Homo sapiens: one gene and its partner. The protein of the gene in region 1 purifies or fractionates together with the protein of each later gene. This does not show direct contact. Each region holds a gene or a part of one and is shown on either strand. Other genes may lie near its edges. The genes, in order: TSEN2 and GREB1L.

Region 1 (16,918 bases):
ATCTGTACAATGGAAATAAAAATAGTCTTTACCTCCGGGGGCTACTGGGATTAAGTGAATTTGAATAGACCTTGCTGTTACCAGTGGTTAGCTATATGTTAAAATCAGCTGGGTCCACCCAGGAAATTCTGATGTAATTGATTGCAGGTGAGGCCTGGGCATGAGGAGTTAAGGGTAGGTAAGCTTGAGGGCCACTGTGTGATGTACCACTCCCAGGTTTAATTTTCTTAATCTGCATTTTTCAATCATCATTCTAAATAACCTGCAGTGACTCCAATTCCAAACCAACCTTTGCATCCCAAACCTCTTGACAACTGACCCAGTCTTTCCTATATGTTTTTGTGCACCTCAGGCACCGCTCTTCTTTCATATCTGTGGAATGAGGATAGTACAGTCAGCTCTCGCTATCAGGTTCCGAATCTGTGGATTCAACCAATGTTGCATCAAAAATATTTGGAAAAAGAAATTTAAAAATATATATATATAACAATTATTTAGTATTTACATTGTATTAGGTATTCTAAGTAATCTAGAGAAGACTTAAAGTAGATGGGAGGATGGGCATAAGTTACATGCAAATACTACATTTTATTTAAGGGACTTGAGCTGCGGATTTTGGTAGGGGGTGAGTCCTGGAACCAGTCCTTCTGTGGATACCAAGGGATGACTATAGTACCCACATGTGCAGCACATGCAGTGAGTGCCTCTGGCATCTGGTACCTACCTATGACAGTTTCCTCTTCTTATTTTACTCACATCCCACCTCTTACAGCATGCTGTTCTGCCGCGACACTAAAGAACCTTCTTGAATATCCATTGCAGATATGGGGAATGGTAAATGCAGTCTTTTCTCCTCTGCTTTGCCTTTCGAGTTCAGCACAGGAGGACTCTTCCATGAAACTAGAGATCATCTGATTTGTCCTCTTGAATTTTTCCCCCTGGGGAAGTGAGCTCTACCTTCCCTGAGGGTTTCTTTCTATCTTTTCTAGAAGCTTCACGCTGGTATCTGTGAAGTCATTCTTGCAGGACATGGCCTGGGGAATGTCTTTACTTCTGAATTTTTTAAAATAGCTTTATTGAGATACCATATAATTCTGTAAAAGTCACCCTTCTGAAATGTACGAGTCAGTGGTCTTCGTATTCGCGGAGTTATGTAACCATTACCATCACTACAATCTAATTTTAAAACATTTTCGTCACCCTCCAAAATAAACCTCCTGTCTTATTAGCAGTCGCCCCCCCATTTCCCACTTTTCCCTGTCTCTGGCAACTGGTAATCTGTCTCTATGGATTTGTCTATTCCGGAAACTTTATCTTAATTGTCTCGTGGTCTTTTGTGTCTGACTTCTTTTAGCATAATGCTTTCAGGTGTTGAAGAATGTATCCGAACTTCATTCCTTTTCTATGGCTAAGTATTTGATTATATGGATAGACCACATTTTGTTGATCTGGTCAACTATTGATGGACATTTGGATGGCTTCCACTTTGATGCTATTATGAATAATACTGTTGTGAACATTCACATACAAATTTTTCCATGAACATATGTTTTCATTTCTCTTAGGTCTATACCTAGGGGTGGAGTTGCTGGATCATGTCGTAACTATGTGTTTGACATTTTGAGGAACTGCCAGACTCCTCCAGTCCTGTTCGATTTGAAGATGAAACTGGGCTTAGAGAAAGTGGGTTGTGCAAGGTCACACAATAATAATGGCGGCTTTGCATGTCTGGAAGGCCTACTGCGAGCCAAATTCCTGAGGGGTGTGCAGCCACATGAGCAAGAGTAACACAAGAACTTGGATTATGAGGGGTGTTTTGTCGCAGGGACCCTTCCATCCCACACACCTGGGTTGGAGTACAGAGTTCTTTCGATCAAGTGTCACAGCTAAATCTTGCCTTTTTTAGATGTGACAGCAGTCTGAGAGGGAAAAACGCTGAACAAATGAGGCAGACTAAAATACAACTCTTATTTGTTGAGAGAATTTATTAGAACTTCTTGAAGGTGGCCATTAAATCTTTTTTCATTTTTTTAAAATTCCGAATGTAATGTATATAAGTCAGCTGCTGAGCAGAGGTTATAAAAGTGAAAAATCCCATAAAAGTCCAAACCATTCCTGGAAGTCTTTCAAAAAGTGCCTTACTAGAGACCAACATCCTGCCCCCAAAAAGCAGTGTTTATTTTCAGTTTTAGAATAAATTATTGTCTCTCCAATTGAGTACTAAATGTGATAATTTAGTACTTGGGCTGAGGGATAAGTCAGCAAGCAAGGTAAAGCCTAGTCTAAATATGCTCTTAAGAAAATCTCTTAGGTTTCCTGTGAGCATGCAGTAGACGTGGTTTTGTTATAAACACTATACAGCAAGATGCATGCATAAATATAAAATGTACAAAGTAATGCTCAGTATGTAATTCCTTCAAGGAACCTTATTTAGAAATTAATCTAGCATGTTGCTGCTTAGAACAATGGCAATTCTAGGAAGGTTCCAACTTCCCGATTCTTCTTTTTCATGGTTATCTTTGTAATTGATGTATCATTTCCTCTAACTCCTCTTTAGTCTGTGTTTTTCTGTGTCCTCATATAATTCCTCAGCTTCTTCCTTGAGAAGTTGGATACTGATATCATCACACGTTGGATAAGCCTTTTCTTAATGGTCATGACACTCTTAAAGCCACTCACCTTCCCCTCCCTCAGTTTTGGCCACCTTCTTGACTGTTTCAGGCTTGATGGCATCCCTTGCCAATGGGATGCAAGTACTGAGTGCAGGAGCCACCTAAGTAATTAGTCTTATTTTTTCCCTTGTGAGGATTCGGAGTCATGTAGGTTAAACGTGTGTATGATTTGGCCGCACTGTATCTTCAAGCACCAGGTAAGCTCTCAGTTGAAATCAAGTCTAGACCTAGTACTGGGGGAGCAGCAGATTCAAGTTTCCCATCTCATTCCAGGACAGCTGCTCCTCGAGTGGAATGTCTTGCACCATTTACATTGTTTTCCCATGTATATGGTTACGTTTTCCTAGGTTAAGTGCATCTACTGTATCTCTGTGTCTGCATCACACAATATGTTCACATTTACTTCCCTCCTTTAGACATTAGTGGATAACAGCCAGTTCCGTTAGCTCCAACCTGCTTTCTGTGCTTCCAGCTATGTTATATACTTGTTTTGTCTCCTTGGATCCAATGTATGGCCCCAGAGGGACACGTACTGGCTTTGGCTTTCTGTTCTCCCTCATGGTGCTGGGTGCACAGTGGGTAATTCCGTTACTGCTCAATAACCCTTCACCGTCTGATTTTGAGAAAGAGTCATCAGACAAAAGTAGATAGACCCTGCCTGTGCTTTCAGCAGAATCTAGAGAGAGGGCATGGGCTTGGGAGTTCAACAGACCTGGGTCACCCGATGCCACCACACTCGGGGTCGTCTACAAATCTCTCTAACCTGAATCTGTTTCCTATTTGTAAAATGGTGTTGCTACTGCTCACCCTGTAATACTAATTATAGCTGATACATGAATGGTACACGCTATGTGCCAGGTACTGTTCTAAGCACTTTATGGATCTTAACTGTAAGATAGAGTCGTTCTTATCTTGATTTTGCAGGTGAGGAAACTAAATCACAGAGAGAGTCAGTGACTTTTGCCCAAAATCACACTGCTAGGAAGTGGTAAAGTTGATTCTGATGCTGATAGTCTGGCTTTAGAGTCCCTGCTTGAAGCCAGTAGCATTTGGTAGTATATAATCGACCCTTAAATAACTGCTGCTGTCATTATTATTTATTAATGTACTTTAAAAATTGGGAGCTGATTGACCCAATGTTTAGTGTGTATTGTAAGATCCTCTTGGAAAATGAAGTGCCTGCAAGATTTAATTTGTTGAGGACAGGGTCTCAGTTTTGTCTTTGTCTCCCCAGCACCTATGATTATTAGGAATTCCTGGTAGTAAATGTCTGTTGGGTGAGTGAAATGGAAGCACTCCTGGTAGACAGAAATCCTGTTGTGCTTGCTCTCAGGAGACCTAACATTGCAGCTTTGGGCATGTCACTAGGTCTCAGCGTTGTCAGCTGGAGTAGAAAGATTACCACTCATTTCCTGGGGTTTATTGTGGGGATTAATTGCAGTATTCTAGGTCAATATGATTTACATTGCTCACACAAACTGTTCTTACTGCTTTTAGTTTATTGCTTTATAAATACTCTATTTCTTCCCACAGACCACTAAGTTTTCTGAGCCTAGGTACAGATGTACTCACATTTTGGATCAAGGTAGTTATTGATTGTCTGTTTCTTTCTGTTTGTTGTCTACTCTTTAAAGAATACCTCCTCTGAAAAATGGCAGAAGCAGTTTTCCATGCCCCAAAGAGGAAAAGAAGAGTGTATGAGACTTACGAGTCTCCATTGCCAATCCCTTTTGGTCAGGACCATGGTCCTCTGAAAGAATTCAAGATATTCCGTGCTGAAATGATTAACAACAATGTGATTGTGAGGAATGCGGAGGACATTGAGCAGCTCTATGGGAAAGTAAGTGCAGGCAGCCTTGGTAAGATTACTTTCAGACAACCCTGAGCAAGCAGTCCTTTCCTTCTCCCCATCCCAGCCATACCCCCACACCAACCATGAACAATGTGTATTCTTTCCTTGCGGTTTGGTCCAGTTGTAGGAAAAGTACAATTTGAATTAGTGCCCAAAAGCCATATGTTAGGGTAATAGAATGACAGATGGAGCACCCCTGCCCACAAACCTTTATTTCAGTGATGAAGTAGGTTCAATGGATTGACTATTTTTTTTGTCTTTAGTTGTAAAAGCAATGCATGTTTGTTAAAGGAACAAAAAAAGTAATTTACAGAAATGTAATGGGTAAAAAAGTGAAAATTCCCCACTCACTCCCATCCCGTTCCCAGAGGTAGCCACAGCGTGGCATAGTGTCCCTACTCAGGCACGGATCAGATGGGGCTTTGGCATGGAGCTCCTTATCTGCTGCCTCCTGGTTGGGGACCTCTTCTCAGATGAGGACAAGTTCTAGTTTTTACTGTTTTCCAGCATTGATCAAGTTGAATGAAGACTGGTAGTTCTTTAAAAAAAATTTTCCATAATCTGTTCATTGCTGTGGGCATTTTTAAAAAACAGCTTTATTGAGTTATAATTTACAACTATAAAGTCCTCCCATTGTAAGTATACAATTCAGTGATTGTCATAAATTTATAGAGTTGCACAACTCTCACCACAGTCCAGTTTTAGAACATTCCCATCACCACAGAGTTCCCTTGTGCCCATCACACTTAATCCCTGCTCCCACTCCCGGCCCAAGGCAGCCACGGAATGGCGTCTTGTCTCCATAAATGTGCCTTCTCTAGACACTTGATAGAAGAGTGGGTGGCACTGGCCATGGTGAGGCAGGAGTCTCAGTAGGCCAAGGGCAGCTCACCAGGGAGGCCTTCATTTACAGTATATAACATTAAGCAAGAGGCTTTATAAAGTGCTGTATGCATTATTTATTCTTGGTTTTTGTTGTTGCTGGGTGTTTTTTTTGTTTGTTTTTTGTGACAGAGTCTTACCCTGTCACCCAGACTAGGGTGCAGTGGCATGATCTCAGCTCACTGCAACCTCTACCTCCCAGGTTCAAGTGATTCTACCACCTCAGCCTCCCGAGTAGTTGGGACTACAGGCGCATGCCACCATGCCTGGCTAATTTTTGTATTTTTTGGTAGAGACAGGGTTTCACCATGTTGGCCAGGCTGGTCTTGAACCCCTGACCTCAAGTGATCTGCCCACCTCGGCCTCCCAAAGTGCCGGGATTACAGGTGTGAGCCACCATACCTGGCCTCTTTATTCTGATTGTTAATCTAAATGGAGAAAGGGGTGTTTGTTTTATTCTTTCAATTTTCTGTGTGTTTAAATATTTTGTAATGAAAAGGGGAAAAATACATGTTGTTTTTGGAATCAGCAGGAATGAGAGGAATACTTCAATTCTGGAGTACAAAAGAATCCAAGAGGTTTTTTTGGACCTAGTGGGCAGCATGGCTCCTGCCTTCAGGCACACTGTGTTCCCGAACCATATGTAGAGAAGAAACTCTGCCTCTGCCTGCCCTCGGCTTATCAGACCTAGACTGAAAGCATTAGTTATGGGATAAATGAGGTGTGCTAAAAACTTACTAGTACTCTTGAAGCGATTAGAAAGGTGTTACGCTAAGAACATCCTTAGTCATCATTAGATAATCAGAGGGAAAATGTAAAGACATGAAAAGTGGGGCGAACCTCTTGTTAACTCAGATGGGTACAGTCGGCCCTCCATATCATGGGTTCCACTTCCGTGGATTCACCCAACCTTGGATTGAAGATATTTTGGGAGAAAAATTGCATGTGTACCAAACGGGGACTTTATTTTCTTATATTAAACAATATAACAACTATTTACATAGCATTTGCATTGCATTAGGTATTATAAGTAGCCTAGAGATGACTTAAAGTATATGGGAGGGCCTACGTAGACTATATATAAATACTGCACCATTTTATATCAGGGACTCGACCATCTGCCGATTTTGGTATCCACCAGAGGTCCTGGAACCAGCCCCCTGTGGATACTGAGGGATTACTGTATATTCTACCTCAGCTAAAAAACTGGTAACTAAGCATGAACTAACTTCATTTTCTCTCTTCCTGGAAGGGTTATTTTGGAAAAGGTATTCTTTCAAGAAGCCGTCCAAGCTTCACAATTTCAGATCCTAAACTGGTTGCTAAATGGAAAGGTAAAGTTGTTGTATCATTCAGTTCTTTTGACAAATTAATCATTTTCCTTTGTTTTTGATCTTATATCTCAGGCTATATAGTAAAATTCTAGAGAAGTAACATGTACACTGGCAGTTTTACTGCCAAAGTTAGCTAGAATAATTCTAATCAAAGCAAAAGGGTTATGATTGGGTGACAGTGTGTTTAATTTCTAGAATTATCAAGTGTTAATTGGGCTTTTCTGTTGTTAAGTGTTTGCTTAGCAGAGTACTATGCCTATGGCAGGTACTGGTAGTTAAGTACCTGCTCACCTGTGGCACTATGCAAAATTTTTAAAATTTTGTTTCCAGAATTAGAATTTGTAATAGCCATGACATGTATGTGTGTGGTTCTCCCTTGCTGATTCTCTTTAATTTATAAATGTTTTAGAATATTTATCTAAGGAATTCTCATGGTAATTACTTAAGAACCAATACCAGCATGTTAAAACATAATTAGAAAGGATCTTTTAAAGGTTTTATTGTAAGAAAATATACAGATTAAAACTGCACTGAGATAACATGTCAACAATCAGGCAGAAATCCAAAAGTCTGACAATATACTGCATTGGTGAGGACTTCAGAAACAGACCTTCTCTTGCATTGCTGGTGGGGTGCTTGTGGTACCACCCTCATGGAGGTGAATTTGGCAATGTCTAGCAAAATTACCTATGCATTTACTTTGTTTTCTTTTCCCCCATTCCTCTCTTTCCTCAGTCCCTGGTAACCTTTATATGTTTTCTGTCTATGAATTTACCTATTATAGATATTTCATATATAAATAACAATCATACAATATTTGCCCTTTTGTGTCTGTTGCTTTCACTTAGCATATTTTCGAGGTTTGTCCCTGCCATAGTGTCTATCAGAACTTCATTCCGTTTTATAGTGGAATAATATTCCATTGTTTGGACATAGTGCCTTTAGCTCATCTGCTGATGGACACTTAGATTGTTTCTGTATTTTGGCTTTTCTGAATAATACTGTTGTGAATATTTGCATACACGTATCTGAGTCTATTTTTAGTTGTTTTGGATATATACCCAGGAGTAGAATTAATGGGTCATATGATAATTGTCTGTTTAACATTTTAAGAACTAGCTAAACTATTTTCCACATTGACCGCATCATTGTACATTCCCACCAGCAATGCACCAAAGGTTCCAATTTCTCTACATCCTTGCCAACACTTGTTTAAAAAAATAATAGTCGGCCAGGCGCGGTAGCTCACGCCTGTAATCCCAGCACTTTGGGAGGCCGAGGCGGGCAGATCATGAGGTCAGGAGTTCGAGACTAGCCTGACCAAGATGGTGAAACCCCATCTCTACTAAAAATACAAAAATTAGCCGGGCATGGTGCTGTGCACCTGTAATCCCAGCTACTCAGGAGGCTGAGGCAGGAGAATCACTTGAACCCGAGAGGCAGAGGTTGCAGTGAGCCGAGATTGCACCACTGCACTCCAGCCTGGGCGACAGAGCAAGACTCCGTTTCTAAATAAATAAATAAATAACAGAGCAAGACTCCATTTCTAAATAAATAAATAAAATAAAATAGTCATCCTAATGAGTATTAAATGGTAAAAGTTTTTCATTTTAATGAAGTCCAATTTATCTATTTTTTCTACTATTGCCTGTGCTTTTGGTATCTATTTAAGAAACCGTTGCCAAGTCCAAATCATGCAGATTTCCCTGGTGTTTTCTTTTAAGAGGTTTATAGTTTGAACTCTTAAGTTTAGGTCTTTGGTCCATTTTGTGTTAATTTTCGTATACTGTGTAAAGTAAGGGTCCAGCTTCATTGTTTTGCCTGTGGATATCCAGTTGTCCCAGTATATGCGTTTACTTTTGATCCAGCAATCTCACTTCTAGGAATTTATCTTAACAATACGCTGACAAAAATATGAAAAGAAATAGCACAGGGCTATTCATGCAACACTGTAATATCCAAAGACTGGGAACAACTTACATGTTCATCAGGAGAGGACCTGTGGAATAATCCATATTTATATAATTAATCCATATAATGAAGGACCGTGGAGCTGAGACAGGAATGGGAGATCGCTAGGATATGCTGGTAAGCGAAGACAGCACAGTATAAAGGAAAGTACATGCTGTGCTGTGGTTTATCTAAAAAGATGGAAATATAAAATAGATATTTTATTATATTTTTTGAGACAAGAGTCTCACTCACTCTGTCATCCAGGCTGGAGTACAGTTGTGCAATCTCCGATCTCAGCTCACTGCATCCTCCACTTCCTGGGTTCAAGCGATTCTCCTGCCTCAGCCTCCTGGGTGAGTAGCTGGGATTACAGGTGTATCCCACCATGCCCGGCTAATTTTTGTATTTTTAGTAGAGACAGAGTTTCGCCATGTTGAGCAGGCTGGTCTCAAACTCCTGACCTCAAGTGATCTGCCTGCCTTGGCCTCCCAAAGTGCTGGGATTACAGGCATGAGCCACTACGCCTGACCAATTTTTTTTAAATGGAAGGATAAAGCATAGTTTTTTAAAAATTCCAGTAGGAAGGGATGAAACAGGATGCAGAGAGAGGTGAGACTTTATAGATTTGACTTTGTAACCATATAAATGTATTACATAATTATAAAAAAAGTTTGGCTGGGCATGGTGGCTCACACCTGTAATCCCAGCACTTTGGGAGGCTGAGGCAGGCAGATCACCTGAGGTCAGGAGTTCAAGACCAGCCTGGCCAACATGGCGAAATCCTGTCTCTACCAAAAATACAAAAATGAGCTGGGCATGGTGGCAGGCACTTGTAATCCCAGCTACTTGGGAGGCTGAGGCAGGAGAATCGCTTGAACCCTGGAGGCGGAGGTTGCAGTGAGCCAAAATCGCGCCACTGCATTTCAGCCTGGGTGACATAATGCAACTCCGTCTCCAAAAAAAAAAAAAAAAAAAAAAGTTAAATTTTTACAAGAGATTTTTTTAAACATAGAAATGAAGTAACTGAAGCTTATATCAAGTTGGTTGTATAACCACAGAGTGAGAAATTATTTTGAGTAACTTTTGGTTTTTTTGGAGATAGGGCCTGGAGTGCAGTGGTGCAATCTCAGCTCACTGCAACCTCCACCTCCTGGGCTTATGCCGTCCTCCTACCTCAGCCTCCCGAGTAGCTGGAACTACAGGCACATGCCATCGCAGCTAGCTAATTTTTGTGTTTTTTGTAGAGACAGGGTTTCACCATGTTACCCAGGCTGGTCTTGAACTCCTGAGCTCAGACAATCCACCCGTCTCAGCTTCTGAAAAGTGCTGGGATTACAGGAATGAGCCAGTGAGCCTGGCCATTTGAGTAACTTTATAGTGATTTGATTGTTCAACCTAATCGGATAGACTTTGCATCAGTTACTTCTTGTCACAATAATGCTGCTTAGTAAACCATCCCGAAAGGTATTGGTTTTAAGCAGCAACCATAGTAGTCACTAGGTGTGCAATCTTGGCTGGGTGTGCTCACTTTCCTGTGGGGTTAAAGCTGAACATCATCTCTTCCAAGCATTTAATGCATGCAGACGAGGCTGAGTTTGGGAAAAGAGAAGTAATTAGCCCAAAGGCAGAGTTAGGAAAAGACCAGGACGAAAACCCAGACCACTGGGTGACCTGATAAACATTTCGGTTGGAAAGACTCCTCCCACCTGATGCCCTGCTTATGCCTGGGGTACAGGCAAGTTAACTACAACCAAAACCTAGGGATTCAGAAACAGCAGGAGCCCGCCTGTCAGAACTGCGCCCTCATCAGGCTGGTCTTCAAAATAACTTGAGGTCAAGCCAGTTTGAGATTCTGCACAGGGAGCTAGAGCTGGATCCCTGAACTCCCAAATCCACATCCAAAACCAACACTGCAATCAAGTTCACTTTTCCAGCACTTTTGATATACACATGGAAGGCGCTTTCAGTGAAGAGGGAAGAATGGAGATGAAGTGCATACCTCTAGGGCCTCAGCATTCTCATTTGGAAGTTGGAATGAGCATTCAGCCATGGCAGAGAGGTTTCCTCCTGTGCTGTTGCTGCTTAGCTGGAGCCCTGAGTTGAGAAGAATTCTGAGGTCCCCTCTAAGCCCAGCAAGACCGATGTGATTGATGGGCAGCACCTGCCAAGGGTATGGGTTCAGGGAAGGACGGCATAGAAAGCATATTTTTGCCATTACTGACTGGACAGTAAACTTTCTAGGTGTGTGATTTTGTGAATCTTAAAATTCTCAGTCTTTCCTAGATTTTTAGTGTTTGTTCCCCTTATGGGAAATTTGCCTGAAACTAATAGAACTTCTTTGTTCCAGATATGAAGACAAACATGCCTATCATCACATCAAAGAGGTAAGTCATAATGAACTTTGGCTTCTGTCAAAATGATGGTTTAAGTCAGATGTTTTTAGGTAGTCTTGTCCCATGTAGCAGTCCAGTCCACACCTTTTTTTCTTTCTGTTTTTGGTAGTAGATGTATCCTTGAAAATTATGTTGGAATTTAATGTGGATCAAATCATTTTTGCAATGCCTTACGTGAGTTTATGGTTTGTTTAAATACTGTTTTGCCAGTTGAATTCTTTCCAAATTATGAATAACTATCCTGTAATAGCTATGTTATTAAGTCCTCATATTCTTGGGCCTAGATTTTGAACCAGCCTTCTGCCCGGTGGGCACAGATGGTCCTGTCCCCCTTCCTCCAGCTACACTGTAGGGTCAGAGAAAGAGGCTTTCACAGAGGCCCTTCCTCATTTAATCCTAGACATTCCCGGAACGTTTCTCCCTGACTCCCCAAACACACACATATGGCCTGGCTGATTCCTGCATGTGCTCAATCCTGCTCATGCCTGACCTCTCCTGGGTTTCTTTCCTTACCACCGTCCCCTCCTCTGTCTTGGCTGCTGCTCCTCTGGCCCCCACAGCCCTCTTCGGCGTGCAGCACTTTCCTCATGTGTCATACGTGGGTTTAGACTGTCGGTGCTTGGAGAGCAGAGATCAGGCCCTTCTCCTCTCTGCAGTGCCACACTTTGTGGTCCCTTGGTGAGATTGTTGACTGTCTCCATCCATCCCAGACCTCCTTGTCCCTGTGATACAGTACAGCTCTTCCATGAAACCTTATAAAACTTCTCAGGTCCCCAGTGATTTTGTTCATCTTGCTTCTGGCATATACGTGCAAAATCTGGCAGCTCCTTTTTGGTTACATGCTTGGCAACCCCATAGCCAGCGGGGTGGCAAGGAGTGGTGGCACCAGGGAGATCTCAATGGCTGTTCCAGCTGTAACCTCAGGTTGGGGTCAGGAGTGGGATTCTGGTGTGTGGGAGGGACCTGCTAAGAACCTGTCAGAGCCCTCAGCCTTGGAGGAGCTATAGTGCAGACAGGTTGCCACAGCAGAAACCTAGGGATCAGAAATAGCAGCAGCTCGCCCATCAGAACTGCATCCTGGCTAGGCTGGCCACAACATGACATAAGGTCAAGCCAGCCTGCCAGCGTAGAGGTTCTGCACAGGGAGAGGGCTACCTCCCTGAAGAGCATCTCTTTAGGAGCACTACAGTATCCCAAGAAGTTTCATTGACCCTTGTATTCATTTCCTAGGGCTGCCATAACAAAGTACCACAGACTCAATGGCTTAAAACAACAGAAATTTATTGTCATGGTTTTGGACACCAGAATTCCAAACTCAAGGTGTCAGCAGGGCCACAGTCCCTCGGAAGGCTCTGGGGGAGCATCCTTCCTTGCCTGCCTTCACTGCTGGCTCCTGGCACCCCTTGGCATTCCTTGGCTTGCAGATGCATCACTCTAATCTCTGCCTCTGTGGTCATGTGGCATTCTCCCTTGTGTGTTTCTGTGTGTCTTTGTCCAAATTTTCCTCTTTTTTTTTTTTGCATTAAAAAAATTGATACATAATAGATGTATGTATTTTCGGGGTATGGGTACATGTGATATTTTGCCTCTTTTAAGGACACCAGTCACTATGTCCTTAGATCAAATTGATTCCATCTGCAAAGACCCTGTTTCCAGATAAAGTCATATTCGCAGGTACTGGGGTGCGTAATCTGGGAGGTGTATGTTGTCCTACTATTCCTTAGTCAAGGCCCCGCAGTTACAGAGTTGCACTGAGAAGTGAAAGCGATAAACTATTCACTAATAAGCAGGCCTGGCATGAACTCAATCTGCATTCAGATATATCTCTCTTCCTTCCTCAGCGCTCTTGATATACTTTATTGTGTTATCACCTTAGTTGATTTTTTCCTTCAATTCTCCTCTAGTCTAACTGCCAGATTCTCATTTTTTAATCCCTTTGCCATACTTTGATCACTTTCATAGACTTCATGAATCCTGCATCTTTTTTGCAAGATTTAAATGTTCAATTTGCCGTCAATTTGCATTGAATTTACATTAACATAACAAAGGACAAAGTGACATAAACGACACATAGTGACAGTGCAGGAATGTTGCTTGAAGGGGGTATGCTTGTGGGGATTAATTTTTTATAAGAAATTTTCAGATTACAGCTCATTTCCCCGTGTGAACCTAAGGATGTTTAAAGATGTTACCAGCACAGTTCTATCAGCAAGCTACATACGTCCCCCAACCAAAACCAATACTTGATTTATTATTTGTTCACAACACTTGGAATCACAATCTAAATTTTGCTAAATATAAGAAAAATTGATGCATGTTCATATTTTTAGATTAATTTTTCAACTTAAATACTTGTCATAATAGTTGTTCGTATTTTTTGTAGAGACAGGGTGTCGCTCTTGCCCAGGCTGGTCTTGGGCTCCTGGGCTCAAGTGATCCTCCCACCTCAGCCTCCCAAAGCACCAGGATTACAGGTGTGAGCCACTGCACCTGGCCATAATTGTTTCTTTTCTGATGCCTCTGAAATTCTGATTTTTATTTCAAGTCGATTCACTCAAATTGGCCTTTTTCCAATAATAGTCGTCCTTGGATAAAGTTACGCACCTTCTGCGTAACTCTTTCTGAAGGTAAGTGTCAGGACCCTTCTGTGATGCCTTTGGGGAACTGACACAAGTAGGGGTATGTCCCTGAAGGACCAGCCCTGATGGTCGTGCTGGTTGCCCACCCCGTTGTCCTTTATTCAGCCAGAATTCACTATGTGTCAGGCATTGGGTAGGTGCTGGGGACCCAAGAGCGAGGAAAAGACCTAGTCCCTGTTCTTGAAGGATTTACAGTCTAGTGAGAGAGGAAGAGAAGTGAACAGTTGTGCTGTCCTGTAGTAGTCGGTGTTGTGATAGAGATACCATCACCATTATAGCCAACAGGTGCTGACTGCTCTGGCAGTGCCATTCCCAGTCTCTGAGCTTGCCTGCATTACCTCCTTTCATCTTCTCAAGAAACCTTCGAGGGTAGGTACTAGAGATGTTTCTGTTTCGTAGATGGGGACTCAGGGGAGGCTTCAGTAGCTTGCCCAAGATTACGTGGGCTCAGCGCCAGAGCCTGGGAGACATTGATATGGGTGTGCACACCAGCACTCCCTGAGCACCTTCCAGTGCTAAGTATCGTGCCAGTGATGGGCCTGTGTGTCATCTCAGGTCCTCACATCACTGCCATGAGGTGGGTCCTGTTCTTATCCATCTTCCACAATTGGAAGAACTGAACACAGGGAAGTGAAGCTCCTTGCTCAGGGTCAGTATGTGGACTTAGGCACTGTGGCCCCAGAACCTATGTGCGCTAACCACTCTAAACCACTCTGCTGTGCACTTCCAGTGATAAAGGGGCATTCATCAGTACAACAATAGGGAACGGTGCCCTGTGCAAATGGGAGAGGTGTGTGTTCAAGGGTGCAGAAACATGAGAAGCCTTGGCGTGTTCTGATGGGCACGTCCTGTGTCCTTGCGGTCCTGGATGGTGCTGCTTTCCCCAGTCCTGTCACTGCTTCCAGTCGTGGCTGCTGCCTCATCCTTCTGCCACGCTCCCCCTTAACACTTTCTGCATTTTACTTCTCATTTCTCTTCCTGCAACTGCTCCAGCATCTGGGATTGATGGCAACAGGACTTGGCTTTTTAAGGTGTTGCCAGCCAGCTAGAGGACGCCTTCAGCTCTGACCCATGTGTCGTTGTCTTAGTCATTTGTTTGTGTGGCTCTTTTCATCATATCTGACTTGGAGGCTTTCTTCTACATGCTCTTCGAGCCTCAGTCTCCTTTGACTTTTCATAGCGATCCTCTGAGACCCTGAAAAGGGAACACAGGTATGGCCTGGTTCTGGTATGTGACAGAAGGCACAGAGGTAGAAGTGCTAAGTGGCTTAGCTCAGAGCCACACGGAAGAGCCAACTCCAGGACCTAGACCTCCAGAGGCTGCGTTCATCCCTGCACTGCTGCCTCTGCTCTCAACAGCAAATTAAGACATTTCCATTCATTAACATCTTTTTCAAGATACCATATATTGAGTCTGATTTATTTTTCAAGCCACTCCTAAAAACTCCACAATGATATAGTAGTATTGATTGAACACTTCTTATGGGCTATGCACTTTACGTGTCTTATTTAATTCTTGCTGCAACCCCAGGAGGTAGGTGCAGTTATCCCTGGTTTGTAGATGGTCACTGAGCCTTAGAGAGGTGGGGTCATATAGCTGGTATGAGAACGTGATGGAGCAAGGATTGGAACCCACGTCTGCTTTGACTGCTCTGCTGCAAAGAGCAGAGCAGTGCCCTCTGTGTGCTCACTTCACTCCAGATCTTCTGGTCAAAGGAGGAACTATTGACCCTTTAAATCAGTGGTTCTGTCACGTGTTTTGAGTCACGGAATTTGGCAAAAGTTTTGGGTCCCTTCCCCAGAAAAATATATTGTCACAAAAATTTGTGTTCAAATAAAGGAAATTTATAGACCCTGTAGAGCCAATGCTTATGTTGATATGAAGAGCTAAGATTCTTTTTAGACCCCTCACATGAAAGTTCTTTTAAACGTATGCATAGGTGGCCATGTTCCAGGTGAGAAGACACCCTGCAGGTTGTGGCACAGCTATGTTCTTTTTGCTGGTTTTAAAAGTAATACATAACAAGATCCCTTTGAGGTGGTAGTACTCATCTCCACATTTTATAGGTGGGAAAATTGAAGCACGGAGAAGTTAAGTAATTTGCATTGCCACACAGTTATAAGTAACAGGGCTGGACACAAAATGTGCCATACCAAAGTCACGGTGCCGTACTGACTCTCAGGTATTAGGGTAGCCTTACCAGGTGTTAATCTTTAGGATACAATTCCCAGTATATAGGGAGGCATCCCTGATGTTCATCCTCATGTGGGGTGAACAGGGTATAGACAGCTTTGGGATTCTTAGGAATCAGGGTTAAGCAACCACTAGTCTCTTTTTAGGTACAGCAGAAGCCAATGTCCTTGTTGAACTGTGTGAGATATAGCAGTTTGTAAACTATGACATATTCAGTCTTTTTTTTTTTCTTTTGGAACATTTCACAAATTTGCGTGTCATCTTTGCACAGGGGCCATTCTAAGTATATGTGCTGCCGCATCGAGCACTGTTCAGTCTTCTTAACCAGGTAAAAGAAGGTGAAAAGTAAAGTTACATCTGCCTTCTCACAAGCCACGTGTTGTCTTGGATGCCTTTCAGACTAATCACTGAAGGTCGAGGCAAAAAGCACTTGAGTTTCACAATGTCTTTGACCTTCTGATCAGATTTCCAACATCTGGTAGTTCTCACATCACATGAACACATCCCAACAGCCTAGGCATGAATGCTTTGCCCTATTGTTTTGCCTATAATTTTTTGTAACTTGGGAAGTGTTTTGTAACTTGGGTGTTAGCTTCAAGTTTTAGAAACTTAACAAGAATTTTATCAATAAAATCTACTCTGCAAAGTATTGTGAGGAAAAGGGCCATTTCTGTTAGAATATGTGGATGAATCTACATAAGCCAAATCATTTCTCTCCTTATCCTGTGAAAGGGTTAGTAGGCACTGTGATGAATATTTATTGAAATTCTCATTTTGCTTTCCAATGCTAAACAAGTTATTTGTATTATGAATGGCATATCTATCTGAAAACATTATGAGATCCAAAATTGAAAATAATACAAAACAAGCTGAGAGCGGTGGCTTACACCTGTAATCCCAGCACTTTGGGAGGCCAAGGCGGTCGGATCTCTTGAGGTCAGGAGTTCAAGACCAGCCTGGCCAAAAATTTGTGTTCAAAAATACAAAAAATTAGCTGGG
Region 2 (16,918 bases), on another chromosome or scaffold:
TGTAGATGTCAGAATGCCTTCATTTTCCTTTCTCAGGCAGGACATCTCTAACTGAATCCAGTGTTTTAGAGCTGCGCTCTTCTGGACACTTCTTGCGCTGCAGTTCTAAACAGTTTGGCCCATCTGCTTCTGTCGGTGCCTCAGTGCCAAGTCAGGAGCTGCTTGTTCCCATTTTAAAGGGAAGTAATAACACCCAGCCTAGAGCTGGACTGGAGGGCAGATAAGACCTGAGTAGTTTTCTTGAACCCACGTGTTTCTTCTCTCCAGGGTCTCCTCTTTCTCCACTGTCTCCCAACCTAGCCTCTGCCTCTCCCTTCCTTCTTAGGTCTCTCCCATTTCTTGTTCCTTTCTATGCCTTTTCATGTCCTTCAACTTCAAACAGCCTTAATATGGGCTTAAAATATTTTCAAAAATGGTTTTGTTTTGAATATAATTGTTTATCACTTTATATCAAGTGAATTAAGGCTTCTGAATATTTCTGTTCCTTCAGCCTCCCCAAAACCACCTATACTCATACTAACTGAAGCCTTTTTCTATATGAATATGACCTTCTTCTGTGCCTGCCTGATCCTTAGGAGAAAGTTTTCTCATCCTAGATCTGACCAAACTATTTAGTACTAGTTTTGCCATTTTTGCAATAATTTGGGGAGAATGAAGCCAACACACATATGCAAATGAAATATACAAATTATTATTTTTATTTTTGGTAAAAATCACATAACATAAAATTTACTGCCATGGCCGGGTGCGGTAGCTTACGCCTGTAATCCCAGCACTTTGGGAGGCTGAGGTGGGTGGATCATCTGAGGTCAGGAGTTTTGAGACCAGCCTGGCCAACATGGTGAAACCCCATCTCTACTAAAAATACAAAAAAAAAAATTAGCTGGGTGTGGTGGTGTGCGCCTGTAATACCAGCTACTCAGGAGTCTGAGGCAGGAGAATCACTTGAACCCGGGAGCTGGTGGCGGCAGTGAGCCAAGATCATGCCACTGCACACCAGCCTGCGTGACAACAGTGAAACTGTCTCCAAAAAAAAAAAAAAAAAGTACTGCTTTAATACTTCTAAAGTGTTAAAGTTCAGAAGTGTTAAGTACATTCACATTGTTTTAAGACTGATTTCCAGAACTCTTTTCACCTTGTGAAACAGAAACTCTATACCCATTAAACAACTCCCCATTCCCTCCCTCCCCTCAGCGTCTGGCAGCCACCATTCTACTTTCTCTAAGTGCCTCATATCAGTGGAATGATACAGTATTTGTCCTTTAGTGACTGACTGGCTTATCTCACTTAGCATGTCCTCAAGGTTCATCCATGTTGTAGCATGTGTTAGAATTCCTTTCCTTCTTAAAGGCTGAATAATATTCCATTTTATGTATCTACTACATTTTGTTTATCCATTCATCCGTCAGTGGACACTTGGGCTGCTCCCACCTTATGGCTGTTGTGCATCATGCTTTTATGAACACAGGTATACAAATATCTCAGACCCTTATTTCAACTCTTCTGGGTATGTATCTAGAAGCGAGATTGCTAGATCATGTGGCAATTCTATTTTTAACTTTCTGAAGAATCACCATACTGTTTTCCATAGTGGCTTGCACCATTTTACCTTCCCACCAACAGTGCACAGGGATTCTAATTTCTTCACATCCTCACCAACACTTTTTTTTTTTGAGGTGTTTTGCATTGTGATTTTGTTTTGCATTCCCCTAATGATTAGTAATATTGAACATCTTTTTGTGTGCTTGTTAGCCATCTGTATATCTTCTTTGAAGACTTGTCTCCAAAGTCCTTTGTTGAAAAATCAACTGAATTATTTTGTTGTTGTTGAGTTGTAGCAGTTTTTAAAAAATATATTCTGGGTATTAATGCCTTATCAGATACACTCTTGGTAAAGATTTTCTCCCGGCCGGGTACAGTGGCTCACACCTGTAATCCCAGCACTCTGGGAGGCCGAGGCGGGCAGATCACCTGAAATAGGAAGTTCAAGATCAGCCTGACCAACCCCGTCTCTACTAAAAATACAAAATTAGCCTGGCATGGTGGCACTTGCCTGTAATTCCAGCTACTCAAGAGGCTGAGGCAGGAGAATCACTTGAACCGGGGAGGTGGAGGTTGCGGTAAGCTGAGATCGTACCGCTGCACTCCAGCCTGGGCAACAAGAGTGAAACTCCGTCTCAAAAAAAAAAAAATTTTTCTCCCATTCCATGGATTGCCTTTTACTCTATTATTTGATGAAGTCCAGTTTGTCTATTTTTTCTTAGCTTTTGTTTTTGATATCATATGTAAGAGATCACTGCCAAATTCAATGTCACAAGGCCTTCCCCTATGTTTTCTCCTAAATGATTTATAGTTTTAGCTTTTATGTCTAGGTCTTTGATCCATTTTGAGTTAATTTTTGTGTAGGGTCTAAGGTAAGGGTCCAACTTCATTCTTTTGCATGTGACTATCAGGTTTTCCCAGCACCATTTTTCTTTAAGACAGGGTCTTGCTCTGTCACCCAAGCTAGAGTGTGCAGTGGTACGACCATAGCTCACTGTAGCCTCCAAGTTCTGAGCTCAAGCAATCCTCCCACCTCAGCCTCCTGAGTGGCTAGGACTATAGGCGTATGCCACCATGCCTAGCTAATTTTTAAATTTTTTGTAGAGACATGGGTCTGTGTTGCTCAGGCTGCTCTCAAACTGCTGGCCTCAAGTGATCCTCCTACCTCAGTCTCCCAAAAATGCTGAGATTACAGGTGTGAGACATCGTGCCCAGCCCCCAACTGTGTTTGTTGACAAGACCATCTGTTACCCACTGAATGGCTTTGGCACCCTTGTCAAAAATCATTTGACCATATATGAGAGGGTTTATTTCTGGGCTTTCTATAGGCCCAGATCAAAACTACCACACTGTTTTCATTACTATAGCTTTGTAGTAAGTTCTGAAATCAGGAAGTGTGAGATCTCTAACTTTGCCTCTCTTTCAAGATTGTTTTGGCTATTTGGGGTCCCCTGAGATACTGGATGAATCGCAGGATAGATTTTTCTATTTCTGCAAAGTCTTTGGGATTTTGATAGGGACTGCATTAAGGCTATGGATCACTTTGGGTAGCACTGATATCTAATATCAAGTCTTCCAATCCATAAACACAGGATGTCTTTCCATTTATTGGTGTCTTCCTTAATTTCCTTCATCAATGCTTTGTACTTTTCACTGTACAAGTCTTTTGCCTCCTTAGTTGATTCCTAAGTCTTTCTTTTTGATGCTATTGTAAATGGAACTCTTGATTTCCTTTAGATTGTTCACAGTTGAGGTATAGAAATGCAACTGATTTTGGTGTTGATTTTGCATCTGCATCTTTGCTGGATTCACATATTCATTCTAAAGGGGATTTTTGGTGGAATTTTTAGTTTTCTATGTATATGTTGCCTGAGAACAGAGATAATTTTACTTCCTTCCTCTTTGGTTGCCTTTTATTTATTTATTTTTTCCTTAATTTCTCTGGCCGTGACTTCCAGTATTATGTTAAATAGAAATGGTAAAAGTGGCATCCTTGTCTTGTTCATGATCTCAGTTTTGGAAAAGCTTTCAGTCTTTCACCATTGACTATGATGATGTTAGCTGTGGGCTTTTCATATATGGCCTTTATTATGTTGAGAATGCAAACTATTACACACACGTTCTTGGAAGGTAGATTTTCCTAAATCCCAGTTTTACCCTTGATCTGTTCACACTGCTTCTGGTTCTTCCATAGATTTAATAGCTTTTCTTTCATTTATCACCTACGTTTTGTTTCATTTTACGATGGCCCACTCATAAAATTTGGCTGATTACTGACTATCATCTTGATAATCACTAACATTCACCGAGTACTTAGAGGGTACTAGGCGCTATCCTGAGCATCATACAGCAACCCTATGAGATCGGCATTATTATTGTCTTCTTAGAGGTGGGGAAGCCAAGGCACAATGGGTTTAATTTGTTCAGGGTCACATGGCTAGAAAGTGGTGGAATTAGGATTCAAAATCAGACAGTTTGGCTCCTGTCTCTTCTCTTAATCTCTATACCATATTGCCTCTTGCAAAAGGCAGATCTAGGGAAAGGGTGCCAGTTTCCAGAGTTGTCTTCTTCAAAGAAGCTGCCGTCAGTTTCCTTGAAGTATCTAAAGCAGGGGACATATCAGTGGAATTGGCATACCCACTCACTGCAGCCCAGTTAACTCCCTAGTACAGGACATGTGAGTGGCTGCTTCCAAGTCTGAGAGAGCCTCTTGTCATGCTTCAAGGAAGTAAACAGTAACAGCATTTCCTAGATGTGGATTCCTTTGTCCTGTGAGGGAAACTGGATTCTTGCAATACTTTCAAAGTGTGGTTCATACCATTTGCATCCTCAAAGATATCTCTGGTTTCTGGCCCTTACACCATACCGACTCAAATGCAGCTCTAGTAATGGACTCTTAAGAATCTACATTTAAAAGTGATTCCCAGTAACACTGGTTTGAGAGCCACTGCTCTGAACATTTGGTTGGCTCCCACCTGCATGGTTCCCATGTGAACAGGCATTCTGTGGAGAGAATATAGCTGCCTGTGGGGCTTCAGCCAAGCCTGAGTGAAGGATGTGTGGATATGCAGATGTGGTTATGTTGCCTTCCAGGTGCTGCCAGGTTCCTCATCAAGGAGCTATCATATCACAACCTAGAATTGGAGAGAAACCGCCTGGAGGAGCTAGGCATTAAACGCCAGTGTGTCTGGCCTTTCATCGTCATGATGGATGACTCATGTGTCCTATGGAACATTCACAGTGTTCAGGAGCCATCCAGGTAGACTTCCAAGCTGGGGGCGTATGACACAATGCTATAGACAGGACAATACATTTCTTGACTACAGTTACATACGGAAGTAAGAAAGAGAGAGACAGCTTTCCAGAGCAAAACAGTCAACCATGAGACCACCCTCACTAGAACATTTTGTGGTGACTTAGGAATCTTTTATTTAGACATTCAGTAGCCCATTAAATTCCTGGACCATTCTGGGATCACAGCGTTGGTTAGCTATTAAAGTCTACTGCGGCCAGGCACAGTGGCTCATGCCTGTAATTCCAGCACTTTGAGAGGCCAAGGCGGGCTGATCATTTAAGGCCAGGAGTTCTAGACCAGCCTGGCCAACATGGTGAAATCCTGTCTGCTAAAAATACAAAAATTAGCTGAGCGTGGTGGCGCATGCCTGCAGTCCCAGCTACTTGAGAGGCTGAGGCAAGAGAATCACTTGAACCCAAGAGGCAGATGTTGCAGTGAGCTGAGATTGTGCCACTGCACTCCAACCTGGGTGACAGAGCGAGACTCTGTCTCAAAAAAACAAAAATAAAGTCTGTTGAGACACTATGATTTATGGAGAAAGACTGCTGACATCTCAAATCAGGAGACCTGGTTTTAGCCCCAACTCTGTTTTTTGTTTATAATTTTTTGTAGAGATGTTGCCCAGTCTGGTGTTGAACTCCTGGGCTCAAGCAGTCCTCCTGCCTTGGCCTCCCAAAGTGTTGGGATTACCAAGTGTGAGCCACCACACGCAGTCATGCTTCTTAACTGTCTGTATGAAAAAGGAAAGTCATCTCACCTCTCCATATCTCAAGTCCATCACCTGTAAAATTACGCCTGGGCCAAAATCAGTGGTTCTCTTCCTGGGGTAGTGCCCCCTCACATTGCTAGGGGGTGCTGGTCGGGGCATCTGTGAGGACCAGAGAATGCCAAACATTTTAAGAAGTCCGACACAATAAACCCCCAAAATTCAATAGCACTCCCATTGCAACACTGTGCCAGCTGACCTTTAAGCCCCTCCCAGCTCAAACACTGTGATTTTGTGTCCTTGTTCCTATTTTGGATTTGAAGCCAGTGAAATTTTCAAATATTCCTTATTATACACAATTACCAGAACTGGGAAGGATACCTCTATGCTTCCAACCTCCGGCTACCTCTTCTTTGGCAACTCTTTATTCACTGTTCACTCTGACACAGGCCGGATTTCTTTCTTTGCCCGAAAGTGATAAGCCCCACCCCAAAAGGCAGTTTCTTTATAATAGTGACAGGCAGTGTGAAAACTGGGCTTGACATTCTTCTCCATTTGCTAATACGAAGTAAATCAGTTAATTTTATCCTTGAGAGTATTACTGGTATATAGTAGTGTGTAGACACTTCACAAATGATCCTCTCTTCTGTAATATTTATCAACATCTTATATAAACTATATTTCATAGCCAGCCCATGGAAGTAGGAGTTTCCAGTAAGAATGTGTCCTTGAAGACTGTCTTGCAGCACATTGAAGCCACACCAAAAATTGTCCACTATGCAATCTTGGGCATACAGAAATGGAGCAGCAAGCTGACTTCTCAGAGCCTAAAGGCCCCATTCTCTAGGTGTCACGTGCATGATTTCATTCTCCTCAACACAGACTTGACTCAGAATGTGCAGTATGACTTCAACAGGTAAGTCAGGCCTCATGGATGCAGGTAATCCTGGCATCTACTGATTGCTTCTGCCCAGCTCTAGCCTCTGTAATGCTTTTATTCGTATGTCTTCAGTTGAGAAGCTGACTCTTTATGTGGGCAAGGAGAAAGGGGGATCACAAGCCCCAAAGTGTGCCCCTTTATCAGCAAACTGACCTAGACCTTAACAGGGGTTACAATGTGAAATGCTTAGAGAAAACACTTTAGCCATCTCATTATTCAACAAGAACTCAAGACACAAAAACTACTGACTCAAGTCAGTGTGTGGACCCACAAACATCTAAGATTAAGCCTCCTTCACCCTCCAGACTCAGAAGGAAATCACTTTTCCTGAATGTTAGACTAAGCCCTCCTTCACCCTCCAGACTCAGAAGGAAATCAATTTTCCTGAATGTTAGTAGGATTCAGGGAAATCCTACTGTAGGGAAAAGGCAGCAGATGGGGATGAGCAGGGTAGCCATGGCCTTGCCTCCCAAATAAATTATGTCCAGGTTCCTACAAAACCTGAGAGGGCCAAGCAAGAAGGCAGGAACCATAAAGTCCTTATGCCAAACTTACGGTTATAGAATAGCTGCTGCTTTCACTCCTGTTTTAAATTTGACAGAGGCTTCATCCTGCTTGTAGCCAGAAATTTAAAACTGGGAGCACCTCTGCATTCCTGTTTTGCCGGAGTGTATCAAATAGGAATATAGTCCTGTTTTTGCATAGGGATACCTAAAACCTGTGACATAGCTGGGACAAAAATAATCTCACTTTCCCCTTCCTTGAAAGGCTGTAATGCCCAAATCAGAGTTTTTCCAGGTCAGTGTTACGAGGGCCAGCTCCACAAAAGCATGGTTGATTATTTTAGGCTCCTAATATCTTGCCACACATTTATTTCTCTGTGTATAGTTATCATGGTTGAGATATGCCAGCGGAAGAAAACTATTGTTGTGGTTACAATTTAGGTATTTCTGTGAAGATGCTGACTTTAATCTGAGAACAAACAGTAGTGGCCTGCTCATCTGCCGCTTTAATAACTTCAGTCTCATGAAGAAACATGTTCAGGTTGGAGGGCAAAGGGACTTTATCATTAAACCAAAGATCATGGTGAGTACCGCAAGCTTGATTCAAGTGCTGAAAATAAGCACAATGATAATGACTATCTTTGTTATTAGATGTTGGCATTAAGCACTTTCTATTTTATTAGAAAAGTGAAATAACACAAGGGAGTTTTTTTTTTTTTTTTTTGAGACAGTCTGTCCCCTAGGCTGGATGGAGAGCAGTGGCGTGATCACGGCTCACTGCAAGCTCTGCCTCCTGGGTTCAAGCGATTCTTGTACCTCAGCCTCCCAAGTAGCTGGGATTAGAGGTCCGTGCCACCACGCTTGGATAATTTTTATATTTTTAGTAGAGATGGGGTTTCACCATGTTGGCCAGGCTGGTCTTGAACTCCTGACCTCAAGTGATCCACCCGCCTTGGCCTCCCAAAGTGCTGGGATTACAGGCATGAGCCACCGCATCCGGCCATTAGGGAGTTCTTAATGTCAAATTTTCAATCTCATTTCTGTTACTGAGACTCATCTAGAGCCAAAACATTTGTTTTGACAATCCAACAAAATTACTTTAGATGTCAGCCTTAAATCTAAGTTTCTTTGGATTTAAGCCTTAACACATCCTTCAAGGCTTTAGTTTCAAGATGGCAAACTTTACATTTTTACCTTCTTTTTTTGAGACAGAGTCTCGCTCTGTTGCCCAGGCTGGACTGCAGTGGCATGATCCCAGCTCGCTGCAACCTCTGCCTCCCGGGTTCAAGCGATTCTCCTGCCTCAGCCACCACGCACCACCACATTTTTACATTCTTTATGTAATACATGAGAGAAATATAAATCAAGATGCCAGTCTGATCCTTTGCTAGAAGTTTCTTAAAAGATAGTAATAAAGATCAAAACCTGTATTACTACCCTTTTCTAAGAAATCTACTGAATGTAGTAATTCACAGCATGGGGGCTACCAGTGGAGCTTAGAAACCTCTTTGCCATTTTTTTGGTGGGGTTGTGGGGTAGAGTTAGGATGAGATAGGATTTAACCCACACACACTGTAAAAGGCTTCCGATTGGATCTCACAGTGTACCTGTTAAATGTGGTAACTTTCAGAGAAGCCTGCTTTCTTCTGCCCTCGCTGTGTGTAACTTACATTAAATCCTATTTTACTATTCCCAAGAGAAAAAAATTTTCAGGACCCTTTACTAACATACATTTGAACCTAGCACCCCTCACTGTGCTACTGCTATTATTTGGCGACTGTTAGGATACACTTCAGTGTTTCCTCACCTGTTTAATCCAGTGACAGACAAGTTTCCCATGATCATCTCGCCTCTGATTTCAGGTGTCAGAGAGCTTAGCACCCATCTTGCCCCTTCAATACATCTGTGCTCCCGACAGTGAACACACACTACTGGCAGCCCCTGCACAGTTTCTCCTGGAGAAATTCCTTCAGCACGCCTCATATAAACTCTTCCCCAAAGCCATCCATAACTTCAGGAGTCCTGTGCTGGCCATTGACTGCTACCTTAACATTGGACCAGAGGTAAAAAGGGTGTGGGGGATACTGTGCTTACCTACATCCATCCATTTCTTTCTCATTTTAGCTGTTTACAAAAAAGGAGCCTGTGACATGAAATATCAATCAAGATGCCAGTCTGGTCCTTTGCCAGAACTTTTATTAAAGATAGTAATACAGATCAAAACTTGTATTTCTACCCTTTTGCATACTCACTTATGCAAAGGTTCACACAACATGCAATGGCAGTTTGCCCTCCCCATGCCTATTTTATCTCCACAAATGAGCCAGAGAATATACAACTCAGCTGTCAGCTCCTCTAAGAAGCCTACCTCGGTGACTTTGGGCAGCAGTTGCTTGTTCCCACTTCTCTTAACATTCATCAGATTATACTGTAATTATGTGGGTTTTTCTTCATAAAAGTGTGAGTTCTTCAAAGACATACAATGTCTTAGGCATTGTTTTAGACATACGTAAGAGGAGCTCAGTGATTACCGAACAAATAAATGTGTATCACCTGAAGCCTTTAGAGGTGGCATTTCTCCACTTCCCACCCCTTGGACTTCTTTCTAAAATTTTTCACATTTTAGTTTTTTTTAAACTGCCACTTGCACCTCCAGGCTCCTACTACTAAGCTGTCCCTTTAGAAATGATTACTGTACTACATCCTCCTTGTAAAAAATGTTTTAAAATCATAAGAAAGTAAAGTCACCTGCCAGAAGAATATTTTGGTGTACTACATTTCCTTCCAGGGCTTTTTCTTTGTATGTATTGAAAAAAACACACATATCCATACACGTACTCTTTTAACGCTAAAGTCACTGTATTCAGTTTTGGAAACTAATTTTTAAAATTTCACAGTGTAAACATTTTACATTCCCATTTTTATGTTTCAGTAATCTACACTGTAGATTGGGTAATGAATTATAGAATTTTAGAAGTAGAAGGAACCTTAAAAACCATCAGATATAAAGGCCAGGCATAGAAGCTCGTGCCTATAACCCAGCATTTTGGGAGGCTGAGGTGGGAGGATCACTTGAGGCCAGGAGTTCGAGACCAGCCTGGACAACATGGTAACACCCTGTCACTACAAAAAATAAAAATAATTAGCCAGGTGTGATGGCGCACGCCTGTAGTCCCAGCTATTCAAAAGGCTGAGGTGGGAAGATCACGTGACCCCAGGAGTTCAAGGTTGCAGTGATCTGATTTGTGCCACTGCATTACAGCCTAAGTGACAGAGACCCCATCTCAAAAAAAACAAAACAAACCCACACCCACGAGATCTAATAACATCTTTTACAGTATTTATGTAAGTACTGTAAAAGATGTATGTAATTTACATGTCTGACCCAGATATTCCAATTCCCCTATCCTAGAGTCCAGGGCTCTACGTATTAACACAATCTCAATACTTAACAACAGCTAACATTTACTGAATACTAAGTTATTTAATTCAGAAAACATCCTATGAAACAAGTACTATTGTTATCTCTACAGATGAGGAAACTGAGGTATAGTGAAATGAAGGAGACTGTTCATTGTTCCATGGCTACTAAATGGAGGAACCAGTATTTGAACCCAAGCAGACTGGCTCATGCATTTAGCCATTCCACTGTTTTAACTCCCAACTATCTTACTTACTTCTCCGTAATTTTTGCAGTTATCATCTGTTCACAGAAGCCAGATAGAACCAAAAATTTAAATTCATGCACTGTCTTTTTTTTTTTTTTGAGATGGAGTTTCACTCTTGTCACCCTGGCTGGAGTGCAATGGTGCAATCTCGGCTCAGTGCAACCTCGGCTCAGTGCAACCTCCACCTCCAGGGTTCAAGCGATTCTCCTGCCTCCGTCTCCTGAGTAGCTGGGATTACAGGTGCACACCATCACGCCTGGCTAATTTTTTTTGTATTTTTTACTAGAGATGGAATTTTGCCACGTTGGCCAGACTGCTCTCCAACTCCTGACCTCAGATGATCCATCCACCTCGGCCTCTCAAAGGGCTGGGATTACAGGCGTGAGCCACCGCACCCAGCCCATGCACTGTCTTAAGCTTCTATCCAATTGAAAATTTAAGTATATCTAAATGGAAAGCTGATCAAAAATATTTTTTATTCTCACCAATAAGGCAATCCAAACATTTAATCTTTCCTAAGTATGCTTTTTTGTGGAAGGTAGTTTTTTAAATTTGATAAAGACTCTTAAATGGAAGGGCTTGTTTCTTACTACTAATTTGTCTCCTAATAGTCCTTTATTATGAAACATAAATAAGAGAAGCTTTAAACAGGTTAACACTTGGCACGCTACATAAAGGAGGCTGCAAAGCTTAACTAACCAAGCCATTTAAGTTAATATTGGAAAAAACTCATCTCCTTTACCTTATCCTGAAATAGAGAAAAAGGAAGGTACTGAGTCATTCTGCTGAACTGCAGATATTTTGCTTGCTCTTGAAATGCCCATGCTATTTTTGCTTGATGATTTCAGGTGGCCATATGCTATATCAGCTCCAGACCCCACTCCAGCAATGTCAACTGTGAAGGGGTGTTTTTCAGTGGACTCCTTTTGTACCTCTGTGACTCTTTTGTAGGTGCTGATCTTAAGAAATTTAAATTTCTAAAAGGTAAGTCAAATTTAGTATCTTGCTTGTAATTGCTATTGGTTCCCACTGAGCAAAATACAGAAGATAAAGATATTTTTAAAAAGCACTTGAGGCCAGGCGCAGTGGCTCAACGCCTGTAATCTCAGCACTTTGGGAGGCCGAGGCGGGTGGATCACGAGGTCAGGAGATCGAGACCATCCTGGCTAGCATGGTGAAACCGTCTCTACTAAAAAATACAACAAAAATTAGCCAGGCATGGTGGTGTGCACCTGTAGTCCCAGCTACTGGGGAGGCTGAGGCAGGAGAATGGCGTGAACCTGGGAGGCGGAGCTTGTAGTGAGCTGAGATCACGCCACTGCACTCCAGCCTGGGCAACAGAGCAAGACTCCGTCTCAAAAAAAAAGTAAATAAATAAATACAAAATCAGCCGGGCGTGGTGGCTCCTGTAATCCCAGCTACTCGGGAGGCTGAGGCGGGAGAATCGCTTAAACCCGGAAGGCAGAGGTTGCAGTGAGCCAAGATCACGCCATTGCACTCCAGCCTGGGCAACAACAGTGAAACTCCATCTCAAAAAAAAAAAAAAGAGAGACTGGCCTAAGAACAAACTAAGATTAAACATCACAGATAATCCTTATAAAATGACCTTTGAGATCAGTGAAGAAAGTGAGGTTCAGAACGCTGTGCAGCATGAGAACAGGGAGAGGGGTTGTGCGGGGACTGTGCATTCATTCATTCACTTATTTATTTATTTATTTATTTAGAGACTTATTGGGGATGGGGGAGTGGTAGATTTTGCCTCCCAGGAGACAGAGACACTTCTGATTGTCGCACTGGAGGCTGCTGCTTGCTGGCATATAGTGGGCAGAAGCCAAGACTGCAGGATGTTTAGATTCCAAACATCCTACAAGACACAGAACAAGGCTAGGTGTGATGGCTCACGCCTGTAATCCCAGCACTTTGGGAGGCCAAGGTGGGTGGATTGGCTGAGCTCAGGAGTTTGAGACCAGCCTGGGCAACACTGTGAAACTCCGTCTCTACTAAAATACAAAAAATTAGCTGGGAGTGGTGGCGTGCACCTGTAGTCCCAGCCACCTGGGAGGCTGAGACAGGAGAATTGCTTGAACCCAGGAGGCGGAGGTTGCAGTGAGCCAAGATTGCACTACTGCACTCCAGCCTGGGCAACAGAGGAAGACTCCGTCTCCAAAAAAAAAAAAGGTAAGACACAGAATAGCCCCCACAACAAAGAATTATCCAAGTCCAATAGTGCTGAGGTTCAGAAACCCTAATCTAGGAGGAACACATGAGAAACATAACATTAGTTATCACAGGGAAGAGGGAATGTGGTTGGAAGATTACTTACTTTATACTCTTAAAAATTACTGAATTTGGGCTGGGCGCAGTGGCTCACACCTGTAATCCCAGCACCTTGGAAGGCCGAGGCAGGTGGATCACGAGGTCAGGAGATCGAGACCATCCTGGCCAACATGATGAAACCCCATCTCTACTAAAATACAAAAAAAAATTAGCTGGGCCTGGTGGCAGACACCTGTAGTCTCAGCTACTTGGGAGGCTAACGCAGGGGAATTGCTTGAACCCAGGAGGCAGAGGTTGCAGTGAACCGAGATCGCACCACTGCACTCCAGCCTGGAGACAGAGCAAGACTCCGTCTCAAAAAAAGAAACAAAAAAAATTACTGAATTTGCAAAACTACTTAATAAAATAAAACAATTCTGATAGATTGCTTATCCATCTGTTGGTTCTCAGATGTGTTAGCTTAGGAAATATAATCAGAGATAAAGTTCTTTATAAATTCAATCCCTGAGCCTAGGACATATTTCTGTCTTTTTTCCTGAAGGTGCTACACTGTGTGTCATCTGCCAAGACAGAAGTTCCTTGCGCCAAACAATTGTCCGCTTAGAGCTAGAAGATGAGTGGCAGTTCCGCCTCCGGGACGAGTTTCAAACTGCTAACAGCAGTGATGACAAGCCTCTCTACTTTCTTACTGGACGTCATGTATGAGCTTTTGAAGAGACCAAAACAGCAAAAAGATGCCTAGGTGGGATGGGACAGAAACAATTTGGGATTTTTCTTTTTCCTTTAAAGTACAATCACTGTGGAGCAAAGTGCAACATATTTGTCTAAATTCTCCAAAGAACTCCCCAAATCTGATCCAGGTCTTTGGGGACATCACTTTCCTTCAGTTCCAATTACAGGACCCTTAAATTCAGGTAAACTCTATCCTAGGCAGTTATGCAATTACTTAAGATACGGTCTGCCCATGGGATCCTGAGGAGGATATACTTTGGAGAGTGAATATGGAGTTTGCATTATTTTTTTCTATTACTATGTTAGGGGGAAACTGACTGTCAGGATTAACTAGCCTGAATGTGTTACATGAGACTCATGCCATTGGTGTGGAATCAATTGAAGATTAACGTTTGAGGCCTGAACCCTCAGTTTCTCTTCAGATCTGTACTTTGGTACAGTATTACTCAGGGGTTTGAAATGATAGAATGTAGACGATATTTGTATTTAAAAAAAGAAGTAGCTTTGTCTTTCTCTGTGCAGTGTTAGTTTAAGATTTATAATCTTCTATGTATTGAAACTTTTGGCAAAATTTCCACAGGAGTTAGAAGTTTACTATTTAAACTGAACAAACAAATCAGTAAATGCAGAGCAGGCATTGTGTGCATTTATGCATCTTCTCCTAGCCTAATTCCTTTGCTTTACCCACTCTTTAAATGTGTTTCCAGTCTTTAAGAATATCTTATCTATGAGACTATGGAACAGTGATTAATCTTTTGCAAGAACTTAAGTCAGTTAAGAAGCTTTCAGCAGGTAACCTGCACCCACCGTTTGGTTGGAATTAAGCAGTTGGCACCAGCAAACCTAAATGTCAGGCTGAGGTTCTGTTGCAGAGTGAAACTAGTTTGTTTCCTTTCAGGGACTCAAGCAAAGCTTCCTTTAAAAGATGCACTAAATATTACCACCTTACACTGACAACGCCACAGAAATTGCCGAATTGGGAAATTGAGCCATAGAAAGAGAAATGTTTTTTTACTTAATCTTACCAGTGACTCTTGTGAGGAGTAAGGAAGACTCCATTAAGAGTCTTTTTGATTCATTAAAATCAGCAGGGGGTGTTTGTCCAGTATCGGCAATGGGAGGCATATGTTTCTACAGATTTCTCAAATATTTTAATCAAAAACATTATTTTTAGAAAGTGTTCTAGATAAAACTAAGTCTTAGAAGTTTACTCTTAAATTACTCCAGTTCTCATCATTGAACAATCTCTTGAGAGTTTTCTCATTAGCCCATATTTACTACTTTATCCCCACTTAAAATGGCCATTTTTACTTGAATCAATCTTGTTTGTGACCTGAAACTACTGAGGGGCCTACTAAGCCTGCATTTACTTAGAACAAATAGTGTTAATTGACCAGCTTTATTATCTTATGACAACAAGGAGTTTACAAAGCTAGTGAAAAAATGGAATGTATTAGACTAAAAATGGTTTGCAGATCTCTTGGTTTTAATATAGCTACTTATAATGCTTTAACTGTATTTTGAAGTGAACAATTCCTTTTAACCCCATTTTTAATTGTCCTTCAAAGAGGACCTGCCTTATATATGCTTTAAAAAATACTCCTTAATTTTAGTACAGCAGAATTTTTGGTAAAGAGGTATGTTTTGAAGCAATTTGGTTTAAATATGAATGTATTTCACTTGTTCCTGTTTTGTTGAAAGGGCCTAATGCAAATAATACCAAGAAACCCACTGTCTGTGCAATATTCCAATAACATTTACATAGGGCAAATAAAATACTTGAAAGAATTCTGAAACAATTGTACCTGGGGTGGATGGCCTCTCAGGGTTTCTTCTGGCTTTATGACTTCATAGTTTAAAGAACTTTTTTTTTAAGTAGTTACATCAGATGCAGGTACTCCATTAGTTAGGGCTGCACTCTGAAAATTCAAATTATTATTATGAGCTCTTAAATACTATTTAACTCTGGAAGAGATATGCCAGAATAAAGCCAAAAGACCATCACCCCTATAATGGAGAAATTGATCTGCCTATTCTTTTCAAAGCCTATCTTACTAATGTTTGGATCTTTTAAAATCATCTTATCATCAGTATAATTCTTGAGTATGTTAGGTCCTTCTTTAAGGATAAAATTGCACAAGCACAGGACACCATGATTTGTGTGTATATATATATATATCCTAGTGTGTTCAGCTTTAAGCTTTGCAATCCCTTAGGACACTGATGTGGGATGAATGGATTCGCTAGGCCCACACAGTAACTCACCTGTAGACCTGCTGAACCTCAGCATGTATGACAGTTCACACAGGTTAATACTGAATGTAAACGAAAAACTAGAAGACAATTGTTATAATTTTTTTTGGCTGTAATTTATGCAATTGCTTTTTGTGATTTTTAGAAAATGGGGCACCCGTGTTATTACTGTAAAATGTTCTTAACCAAAATTTGGTGAATTTCACTAGTCTACCTCACATTTTGTTAATGATTCAAAATTGTCTTGTGTCTACTGTTATATTTTTGTCCTTTGATTTAATTTGCTTAATGTATTAAAGTTATCTCCCACCCCCTCCAAAAAGTTATTTTTTCTTTATAGTTTTCTGGCATGTTTGTTAAGAAAACAAGCTCCCTGACTCTGGCAATGTCCTAAAAAGGCTGGAAGTCAGTCACATTATAGGTTGGACAACCAAGATTAAAGAGGTGTTGAAAACATACATAGTAGATACCAATCTTTTATTTGACAGATTGCAACTACACTCACTTTGATGTCCTTCTGGAAACAGAACAACTTTGGGTTGCTAAAACTAATACAAGGTGTTTGTTATTGTTAATCTCCAGTTAAAACTTCTCAAACTTTTTGAGAGTGTCTCAAAGTTGCTAGAACTATGTAGTATGAAGATGCTGTTATTGTAGTATGAATTATATCTTCTTAAAAAATTTTACCAACTTTTGAGAATAACAACTTTGTTGTCCCAGAAAAATGGCTTTCAATCTATTAATAAAGTGTAGTAAATTAAAAGAATTTGACATAGATTCCATGAAAACAATCTTCTAGGCCAAAGGACCCTCAGGAAGGGCAATAAATATTTGTAAGTGTAATGACAGACTTTCAGAGGAAAGTAAAGACTACTGGTGTTCCACTATACATTCCAAAGCAGCTGCCTTGAAAAGACTATTAATTAACTGTGAAACTGACTGCTGCAACATCACACTAAACTACTTAGGCCTGAAACAACATCCAGAGAACGAACATTTATC

Evidence for each region.
Region 2: the proteins of TSEN2 (region 1) and GREB1L purify together in Homo sapiens (affinity purification with mass spectrometry; 2 studies listed by BioGRID and IntAct, with this or other methods). This does not show direct contact.

What each region holds. Positions count from the first base shown.
Region 1 is NC_000003.12:12,485,478-12,502,395, forward strand, and holds part of TSEN2 (tRNA-splicing endonuclease subunit Sen2), read left to right. Parts: intron 1-4,306; 5' UTR 4,307-4,323; coding exon 4,324-4,512; intron 4,513-6,658; coding exon 6,659-6,740; intron 6,741-6,751; exon of another isoform or gene 6,752-8,828; intron 8,829-11,040; coding exon 11,041-11,077; intron 11,078-16,190; coding exon of another isoform or gene 16,191-16,247; intron 16,248-16,918.
Region 2 is NC_000018.10:21,509,186-21,526,103, forward strand, and holds part of GREB1L (GREB1-like protein), read left to right. Parts: intron 1-4,635; coding exon 4,636-4,801; intron 4,802-6,231; coding exon 6,232-6,459; intron 6,460-7,427; coding exon 7,428-7,569; intron 7,570-8,848; coding exon 8,849-9,049; coding exon of another isoform or gene 9,050-9,442; exon of another isoform or gene 9,443-10,746; intron 10,747-11,502; coding exon 11,503-11,638; intron 11,639-13,472; coding exon 13,473-13,636; 3' UTR 13,637-16,918. UniProt on the Homo sapiens protein: Plays a major role in early metanephros and genital development.